Linked DNA regions of Homo sapiens: region 2 is linked to region 1. The links come from fine-mapping of genetic effects on gene expression. Tissue or cell type: tibial nerve. Region 1 holds a variant in brackets; the other region holds the start of a gene. All regions are shown on one strand. Distances are from middle to middle.

Region 1 (5,259 bases):
GCAGTCAAGACCTGAGCAGGGCAGGGAGGACGGGCACTCAGGCCCATCAAGTCCCCTCGTCACATATTCCTGAGGTGCAGTCTAAGACAGGCACAGCCCAGGTGAAAACATAAGCCACACAGCACAGAAGGAAACTGCAGAAACCAAACGGACCGTGTGCACTGTACATTGCCATTGATCTTCATTTGCAAAGGTCTCGCGACCTTGAGATTATCATGGGGAGACTCAGAGTGAAGTTCTCTGGACAATGCTTGCTGATTGAGCTGGAGGAAGGACACAGAAGAAGCTCTGTTTCAGTTGCGTCACTTACATGTTTGTGTTATGTAATGTATGTATTTAAACAGTTCATCTATAAGTAAACATACATATGTCATAGTGAATGCTCAGGGAAGTATTTTCACAGAAGTGTGTGCTATCAAAGAGTCTGGAATCCACTATCGAGCAGTCATGCTGTTTGCCACAGGAATGTACCAGGGGTGAAGTTCTTCCAACTGCCAAGAATGAACTGTGGCAAGAATCCTGGGTTGTTGGGAACTGAAGCACTATCACATTCTACTGAAGATAATATCAGCCAGGCGACTGCCTGTGCCTGAGAAAGGAGGAGACAGCAGCCAGGAAAAGGCCAGAAAATGGTGTCTGTCTCAGCCAGGCCCCCGAGGGAACGCAGGTGGAATGTTTGTGCTTCGGCAGCTGAGACAGTGTGAGGCATCCCAAGAGGAGAGAAATGATACCTGGTCAATCTCCAAACCTACACTCAGCACTTTTCCAAGCATTTCCTGTCTTCATCCTGGAAGCCCATACACATCATCTAATCTCTACTTCTCACTGGGACAGACCTGTGAGATCAAAGGGAAATGAGTGGTGGACCTAATCTGTCCCAGAATCTGTACAAAATGATCCTCTGCAAACTGGAAGAAGACTGTGCAGGCGCCCGGGAGCAGAGTGGCCATGCAGAGGAAGGGACCCAGACACGTGCTCTGTCTGCAGTGACATCAGTGTTGTCTCCGTGGGCGGCTGGGAGGTCAGGGTGTTGACTCTGCCTGCAGAATGGAGAGCATTCTCCTGAGACCCACACCTAACTGGGAGGTCAGGATTGACATGGAAAGTGGCCTTGATAAAAGGAATGGTATTAAGGACAAATGTAGAAAAGGGTGGAAAGACAAACCACACAGACCAGGCTGGTCTGTACACAAACAGAAAAATAAAAATGCCTCCATCAGGATGGAATGCCTCCAGATGATGGAAAGTCAGTACTTGAGAGTTACAAATTAAGAGAACTGTCAGACTCGCACTCCAGTGTTCCTTCTGCTGAGACTTTAATGTTTCCCGGGGTGTTCCTTAAGCCAACCCCTCATCCCCAAATCCCAGCAGGATGATGGGAGCACTCTTCCCCTCCCCTCTAAGAAGGGCTTAATTTGGTGACCGATTCCTGGGCCACTCACCCACAGCAGGCAGCTGGATGCAGGATTTACTTTCTCTGAGTATCCATCTCCTATTCTCTCTCTTTCCATCACTCAGAGCACCCCAAGATCTGGCTACCTCGGGCCCTGAGGCAGACCTACATCCGGAAGGTTGGGGACACAGTGAACCTACTAATCCCATTCCAGGTGATCATGCCAGCCCCATACTGGGTCCATGTCTGGGGCCAGTGCAGGTTTTGGATTTGGAAACAGATACCAAGAGTCCTGCTAGCAGAGGGGCAATCTTCCCAGCCTTGGATAGAAGGGGTCACACCACCAGAAGTCTGAGGCCAAATGACCTCTGCACTCCTGAAGGTGGGTTTGGATAGGACTGGGTGTGCACCCATGAGATGGTGTGAGGCTAATCCATGCCCTTCAGTCTACAGAAGCCTCAGAGCTTGCAGTTAGAAGGGTTCTTGGGAGTTTGAGTGGCTATTCAATTGGTCCCAGCTGCCCCGGGTGTTCATGACCTAAGCTCTCAGAGATTGGGAGACTCAAAGCCATCCCTCTTTCCCAAGATCCTTAGGCTGTTGCTGAAAGGAGGAGGCCCCCGGGAGGGTCCACCAACTTCTAACTCAAGGAATGTGCAGCTCCAAGTCAAGCCTCCCTGTGGACCTGGGGTGGACAGGACCCCTACAGCAGCAGGGAGAGTCAGGAAGCCTCTCGGGGCTGCTCAAAGCATTACCCTCATTCCTCAGGGCAAGCCCAAACCTCAAGCCATCTGGACACATGATGGCTGTGCCTTGGACACCAGGCGTGTGAGTGTGCGGAATGGGGAGCAAGACTCCATCCTCTTCATCCGAGAAGCCCAACGTGCTGACTCAGGTCGCTACCAACTCCGCGTGCAGCTGGGTGGGCTGGAGGCCACCGCCACCATTGACATCCTGGTGATTGGTACGGTGGGGGAAGTGGGAGATGGGGGGGTCCTCAGGAACTCCCTCTCCAGGCTGAAGAGGAGCCAGCTCAGAGAGCTGGGGAAGCTGCGGCAAGGCTCCCACGTCATGTCTGGGACACAGGGTGGGCGCAGGAGGGGTAACTGAGGAGAAAAAGGGGCTAGGGCACTCCTGAAGTGACTTCAATGCATGTGGGATGTTCCACGCCCACTGCCATGGCTTTGCCCTTTCAGAGAGGCCAGGCCCTCCTCAGAGTATTAAGCTGGTGGACGTTTGGGGCTTCAGCGCTACACTGGAATGGACACC[G/T]CCCCAAGATACGGGGAATACAGCACTTCTGGGATACACGGTGCAGAAGGCTGACACAAAATCCGGGGTGAGGCCAGCTGGGAAGGAAGGAGGGTGGAAGAGGGCATGTTGGGACAGGCCTCTGGTAGCTCCACATGGGGTGGCTGATTTCTGGCATCATGTTCGGCCCCGCAGCTGTGGTTCACGGTGCTGGAGCACTATCACCGCACCAGCTGCATCGTCTCTGACCTCATCATCGGCAACTCCTATGCCTTCCGTGTCTTTGCTGAAAACCAGTGCGGACTCAGTGAAACAGCCCCCATCACTACGGACCTCGCCCACATCCAGAAAGCAGGTAAGGGAGGCATGGGGATCATGAGCTGGGAAGACTTAAGGATAGGCCGGGCACAGTGGCTCACGCCTCTAATTCCAGCACTTTGGGAGGCCAAGGCAGGCGGATCACCTGAGGTCAGGAGTTCAAGACCAGCCTGGACAACATGGTGAAACCTCATCTCTACTAAAAATACAAAAATTAGCCAGGCATGGTGGTGCACGCCTGTACTCCCAGCTACTCAGGAGGCTAAGGCAGGAGAATTGCTTGAACTTGGGAGTTGGAGGTTGCAGTGAGCTGAGATCGTGCCACTGCACTCCAGCCTGGGCAATAGAGTGAGACTCCACCTCAAAAAAAAAAAAAAATACTAAGGATAAAGAGTCGACGAGGGCTGGGATCTCAGAAGCTACATGCCAGCCCCTCTTGGTGCCCTCAGCTACTGTTTACAAGACCAAGGGGTTTGCCCAACGAGACTTCTCTGAAGCCCCAAAGTTTACCCAGCCTCTGGCCGACTGCACTACAGTCACCGGCTATAATACCCAGCTCTTCTGCTGTGTCCGCGCCTCTCCCCGGGTGAGTGGGGGCTCTGGGGGGCACTGTGCTGAGCTGCTTCTTGTTCCTGCCTGTCCTAACCTAAGCTGAGTTGCAGAGCACTGTAACATAACATCTGTTACCATCACCGCCATCTGCCTCTTCTACAGCACGGTATTTAGGAACAGTCGGGGGGGTGCTTGGAGTCCAAGACGGACTGATGAGAATGACATTTCCTTTTGAATGTTTGTTTCTCATATATGGAGGTGTTGCTTACTGACCTGCTGGCAATTAGGCATGCGCCTCAAGTTGTTTCTGTGGTAGGAGTGACAGAGTCCCTGTGGTTTCTCCTTCCCATGCATACCTCATCCCATCAGGGCCGTGCACATGCAACCTGCCTAGAGTTCAGCCTTTTGCCACAACCCTGAGCAAGGCTCTCTGTCTATTTACAATCTAGTCATCATGCTCCACACACAGCAGAAAACACCATTAACAACCTGTACCAAGAATCTTTTGGGTTTTGAGTCTGGGCAAGACTACATGGAGATAACATCTCAGAAGGGGCATATCAAGAGCCCACTCTAGAAGCTACTCTCTAACCAGAGGGGACAGAGGCAACTCACAAGTCAGCAGTGGGAACAGAATATGGATGGTTCACAAGAGGTGAGCCTGATGCTCAGTGCTTCTGATCCATAAAGGGGCTGCCTGAGAGCCCGGAACGGAAGTTAGCAGTTTTCTTCCAGTCAGAAATATTGGTAAAGAAAATGAAGTTTCAGGTGCTGTTTTCAAACAAGAGAAGGAGCTTGGGGGACTGCTGGTGGCACTGGAAGGGGAAACCCTTCCCACAACATAAGGAACAGGGAGCCTTCCAGAAAGCCATTATCTCTATATAGACAGAGTCCCAGAAACTGAGCACAGAAAGACTATTGGTTCTTACCCTCGCCCCTCCTTGCTGCCTCCCTCATCTTTGTCTTCCAGCCCAAGATCATCTGGCTGAAGAACAAGATGGATATCCAAGGCAACCCTAAGTACAGAGCCCTGACTCACCTGGGAATCTGCTCCCTAGAGATCCGCAAGCCGGGTCCCTTTGATGGAGGCATCTATACCTGCAAGGCGGTGAACCCCCTAGGGGAGGCATCTGTGGACTGTCGGGTGGATGTGAAAGGTAAGGGCAAGAGGAGAACTAGTGCCTTAGGGTGCCAGTCACCTCCTCTCTCCACCGGTGGAAGAGTCAGGGAACAGAGACGCAAGCCTAGGGGGAGAAGGGGTTCCTCCGCTGGACTCTTTCATCACTGTCATCATCAGGATGTATTGGAGGAGACATTTTAATTATCTACTATCTCATTTCTCTCCATCACAATTCAATAATATAGGAAGAATTCTTATTTCCATTTTGCAAATGAGAAGACGAAAGTACAGGGAGGGAACTGGTTTGCCCAAGATTCCCAGTGTCAGTTAGTTGATCACCTGGCACTGGTGGAAATAGCCCAGGTCTCCGGGTCCTCGCTCAGCTCATTTTTCTTTATGCTGTGCAATCTTCTGACTCAGCCTAGGAAAGCTGCAACTGTTTGTCAGGCTTTATTTCACTTCCCCTCCGGTTTATTTATAGGTAATATTGCATATCCTCTCTACTTCCTTAAAGTATTTAATCACTTATCTATACCTGTCACCTTGTTCAGATCTCTATCATTGTGTTTAACATACTGTTTTATAATTATCTATTTATAGATATGTTTCCCTATTAAATTATAAGCATTTT
Region 2 (5,000 bases), 48 kb after region 1:
GGTAAAGGTTGGATTGTTGTCGTTGACATCCAGGACAGTCACGCTGACACTGGCCGAGGCAGTGAGTGCTGGAGTGCCATGGTCTCGAGCTTCTACCCCAAAGCTGTAGAAATCAACTTCCTCCCGGTCCAGTTCAGCAGCCACAGAGATCCAGCCTGTGCCATTGTTGATGGTGAAGGGGAAGTCATGTCCCACCCCAGCAAGGCGGTATTCCAGGCGGGCATTGTCACCAGCATCAGCGTCGATAGCCTGGACATGGAGAACCAGGTAGCCTAAGGGGACACTCTCCAGGACAGTAGCCTGGAAAGGGGTGCTGACGAAGATGGGGGCATTGTCGTTGATATCCAGGACCTGTACTGTCACCAAGCCAGAGACATTAGAGAGTGGGGGACGGCCACCATCCTGTGCTCGCACCCGTAGGGTGTACTCCTTGGTCGTCTCATAGTCAAGAGGGCTCACCACATCCAGAGCTCCAGTCTGGGCATCCAGATAAAACTGTCCCCGAGCATTGCCACTCATGATGCTATAGTGCACCACGGCATTGCTCCCCTTGTCTCGATCCGAGGCTGTGACTCGGAGTACTGGGGCCCCTGGAGTCACATCCTCCCTCACCTGGACCACATAGCGCTTCTCACTAAACTGGGGGGCATTATCATTGTCATCCTCCACAGAAAGGAAAACAGCGGCTGTGGTACTCCGAGGACCCGGGTCCCGACCCTGGTCACTTGCCTCTACCGTCAGCTGGTAGGATTCCACCTCTTCCCGATCCACAGGGCCACGGGTTCGGATCACCCCAGAGCGAGGGTCGATCTCAAAGACTTCAGAGGGGCTGCCCCCAGACCCCTCCAGCAGGCGGTACAGAATATTGGCATTGGGAGGGGCATCACCATCCGTGGCCCTGACAGTGAGCACCTCATAGCCAACCTCCAGGTTCTCCCTGAGGCTCTCCTTGTACTCCTGCTGCTCGAACACAGGGTCATGGTCATTGGTGTCAGTAACCAAGATGGTGAGTGTAGCCAGGGCACTTCGTCGGGGCATGCCGTGGTCCTGCGCCGTGACCCTGAAGACGTGGGTGCTCTTGGTCTCACGATCCAGCTCCTCGGCTGTGGTTACTGCACCAGTGACTGGGTCCAGGGAGAAGAACTGGTTGGAGCGGCTATCAAAGAGGGCATCCATGGTGTACTCCAGTCGACCTGCCTCACCCTCGTCCGGGTCGATGGCCCTCAGGGATGCAACAGGGGTGCCTGCTGGCTGGTTCTCCGGCACTGTGGCCTGGTAGCTGGGGGGCTGGAACTGGGGGGCTGTATTTACATTCCTTTTCCGACGCCCACCCAGGGACTCTTCTGGTGACCTTTCCCCTGCCCTGAGCCCGGGGGCCTGTGCCAGCTTGCAGGACTGGCATCTGAGCCGTGGAGCCTTTAAGCACGGGTGCTCCTCGGGCAGTGTGAGCTTGCCCTGTGGGGAAAGGTGGCCTCCAATGCCCAGGAGGCGACAGCTCCAGGGGCAGCCTTCAGGAGCTGGTGGTAGGGGAATATGGGCCTCGGATTCTGGACACCAAACCCTCAGGCCATCGTGGTGGGGTACCAGGTGGCCAGTCAGCTCAGTGCCCGCATCCCTGCAGCGGCTGGTGTAGAGCCAGAGGTTCGACGCTGAGGATGGACAGAGCCAGCCCATGGGGGCGCAGGCCCCCGAAGAGCCTCGTCCCCTGGACCCCAAGGAACGACAGGGCCCCACTTGGTCTCCCAATAGTGGCGGCGGCAGCAGCAGCAGCAACAGCAGCAGCAGCGGCGGCGGCGGCGTTGGGAGGGGGACGCCGGTGGCCGGGCTCCGCATCTCTCCCAGCTCCCGGCCGGCGGCCGGGTCAACGGCGGCGGCGGCTCCTCCTCCGGCTCCTGCCGGCCCCGCCGCGCCTCATGCCCGGGCCAGGGCGCCAGTCCCCGGGGGCCTCCCGTGCGCCCCGCGGGGCCTGCGTCTGGATGGCTCGGCGGGACCCCGCGCTGCACCCTCCGACGAGCCCGGGCTCCCACTGCCCCCTGAGCCAGACCCGCTCCCGGGTCACCCTGAGCACCGCGGGCTGCCGCCGCGCCTCCACCTGCGCTCCGGGCACTCACCACCTGCGCCCGGGGGCCCCGCGGCGCCCCTGGCCTTGCCGGGCCCCGGGTTCCGGAGCCGGGGTGCCCCCTCCGCCCCTATGGGATCGCCCACCTGCGCCCGCGTAGCCGTGCGCCCCGACCCCGGCCCGGCCCCGGCGGCCCCCGACGGTCCCGCGCCGCCCGCTCGCGCCCCGCGTCCCCGCCGCGGCTGCTGCCTGTCGCCGCGGCCCCGGGCCCAGCCCCGCGCTCCCTCGCCTCCCCGGCGGGCGGGCGAGCTCTGCAGAGTCGCGGCGGCGGCTCATTACCATAGACCTGCTCGCGCCGCGGCCGCCTTAAAGCGGCAACGCCGGCCGCGCTGGAGGAGGTGGGCCCCACCCAGAGCACTCCTCCGCCCAAAGCGCCAGGATTCCCTCCAGCAGGACCCTCCATCCCAATTTCCCCAGGCCGGCCTCGCCAGATGCCCGGTGCGAATTAGCGATCGGAAGCCACACAGCCGATGATAATCATGGTGGAAGTACCCTAAGTATGCCTAGAGGTTTCCAAAACATTTTAAGGGCTCTCAGAGGCCAAGTTTCCAGTTCATTCCAGTCATAAAAGCCCTCGTTGCTGTCCCCTCCCATAGGTCAGACAGAGTTAAAAGGGCCCTGAGCAACACAACAAAGCCTCCAAAATCCCAGAGAAGCACCCACAATGAGTCACCGGGCCCACTCGCTCCCTACCGTCCCCTCCACCCCACCAGCGAGGCTGTTGTCTGACCAGCATGCCCCTTGGGGTCGGGCTGTTGGAAGAATGACCCCAGCCTCATGTTGGACACCACTTGGGCTTTTCCAGGGAAGTAAATTAGAAGGGTCAGAGTGGGTGGAAGCCAGGTGGTGCAAACACACTGTCACCAGATTCGGAGGCCGGCTGCGGTGGAGCCTAGCTTTAACACAGGCTTCCTGGATTCTAGACAAGGGGCTTACACTGCCCCCTGAGGTCCTGTCTAGAGAGGCGGCCTCTCATCCCCTCCTGCCTCCCTGTCCATGTCCTGCGGCTACCCCCTCCTTCCGCCACAGTTTTGTGACCAGCGAGGAGGCCTACCTGGTACCCGGGCTCCTGACCCTCTCCAAGGCAGCTTCATTTGAGAGGGTGTGCAGGATTCCAGGGGTTCTCCAAGAGGACCAGACATGAAGCTGGACCACACGGAGAGCCAGGCAGGAGCCGTGCAGGCGACCCAGAAAAGGCTTCCCTACATCCTGGAGCAGCCAGGGGCCCAGTCAGGTAGTCCCTGGGGGGATGCCCTGGCCTGGGGGGATGCCTGGGCCTGGGTCCCAGCCTCCAACACCACAGCTATGTGACCTTGCTCAAATTCTGTGCCTCAATGTCCCTTTTTGTAAAATGAGGGGATTGAATAAGGTGAATGGTTCTCAAATGTTTATTTAGCAGTAGAATTCTTTTCTTCAAAAGAAATCTGAAGTGGAAGGCCAGAATATAGAACAGATGAGTAGTGCTGCTGGGTTGAAGTGAGGGGGTCAGGGCCTTGCCCCTCTCCACCACTCCCCCAACCAAGAAATCCCTGGGCTGCTCTGTGCAACTTGAGGGTCTGGAGGAACCCATCTGAAAAGCACTGGATCAGGTGCTCCCTTCTACCACTGCCCCCGGTCACAGTGGTGCCACTCTCACTGGGTCACAGCAGAGGATCCCCCAGCCCCAGGCCCAAGGAGTGTCTGTGTGACCACACAGTGAGGCCAAGGATGAGAAATCAGCTTTTCTCTTTTCCCCTGGGGAAACAGGAAAGGAGATGGGCCTTGGGTACAGCAAGAAAGATTAGGGTTAGACTGTGCTCCTGGCAGGATGGATAGAAGTAGGAGGAGGACCCATGGCTCAAGGAAATGCCCTCCCCTTTGACCAAACAGGAGCTTTCTTCCTCTGAGCAAGGCCAAGGGCAGCTCTGGAGATGGAGGCGTGGGTTACACGCCTCCGCAGGGCTCTGCCTCTCTAGACTTCCTCAGACTCTGGAGTTTGGAAGGATCTAGGGGCTGCGTGGGCATTTTGTTCTTCACCTAATAGCCATGTGGTGCAGAGAATGCTTGGAAATTATACCATCTGTTAATTATCCTTTGAATTGGGGTTGGGTAATGAGACTCTCATTTCTGGTGAAGGCCCAAGCCAACCCGTGGAGAAGCTGCAACTCTCCATTCATCTCGCTCCCTTTGTTGCTAAAATAAGCTTTCTGGGTGGGAGGAAAGAGTAGCCCTGGCTCTGGATCACGGAAGGTGGTTCTGGGGCCTTGCACCTTGAGGCAGGGGTTGCCAGGGAAGGCATGAGCTCAGAAGCCCCTTCCAGGTGGGTGGCCTTTCCACCCAAAGGCAGATAGGTTGGGGGATCCAAGGAACCCTTTCCTTCATCCCCAAGCACATTTGGCAAATAGTCCTTAATCCTCCCCAGTCCTCCCTCCGGGGGCACAGGACAGAGCTCTCTCCCCATCACTTCCTCAGATACTTCCAACTCCCAAAAGCAGGAGGGAAATTTCCAAGTTTCATATGCATCACTGAGAGTCTCAAATGAGGGAGGGGTTGCCCTGGTGGAGGCCTCCCTGATCCCCAGGGAAGGGCTGCCTGCTTCATGGAGCTTTCCAGTTGTAAGGAACCTATGGACCTCCCTCCTGTGTGTAAGGGACATTTAGGCCTCCCTTCTGCATAGCTTTTAGGTGCTATCAAGGGGCAGCAAGGGCTTGGGGTCTGTTAAAAGAGAATTTATTGTTCTTCTAGTCCAAACCTCCCACTTCACAGTGGAGGCTCTGGGAAGGAAGGAAACCTGCTTGGCTAGCCTTGCGGCTGTCCTTTAGCTCTGGTGGGATTTCCTTACTCAGGTTGCTTCCTGAGGACCCCCTGGATAAGGCATGGCCCTGGCTTTCAACACAACAGG

The links. PIP is the estimated chance that this variant, and not a neighbour inherited with it, causes the effect.
Region 2: it holds the start of CELSR2, and the variant in region 1 is fine-mapped to the expression of CELSR2 in tibial nerve (GTEx, PIP 0.99).

The regions. Positions count from the first base shown.
Region 1 is chr1:109,294,517-109,299,775 of GRCh38, reverse strand. MYBPHL (myosin binding protein H like) reads left to right here. Exons shown (of 9, transcript NM_001010985.3): 2 at 1,519-1,607; 3 at 2,159-2,354; 4 at 2,587-2,726; 5 at 2,834-2,993; 6 at 3,406-3,542; 7 at 4,479-4,665. Among named protein-coding and RNA genes, the nearest start is that of MYBPHL, 9.9 kb to the left of the region's middle. RefSeq lists an enhancer at 2,511-3,082. The variant G/T (reference allele first, on the strand shown) is at 2,660.
Region 2 is chr1:109,246,913-109,251,912 of GRCh38, reverse strand. It overlaps CELSR2 (cadherin EGF LAG seven-pass G-type receptor 2), which reads right to left and starts at 2,374. Exons shown (of 34, transcript NM_001408.3): 1 at 1-2,374. The coding sequence starts at 1,833. RefSeq lists silencers at 727-917, 2,016-2,115, 2,276-2,335 and an enhancer at 2,337-3,057.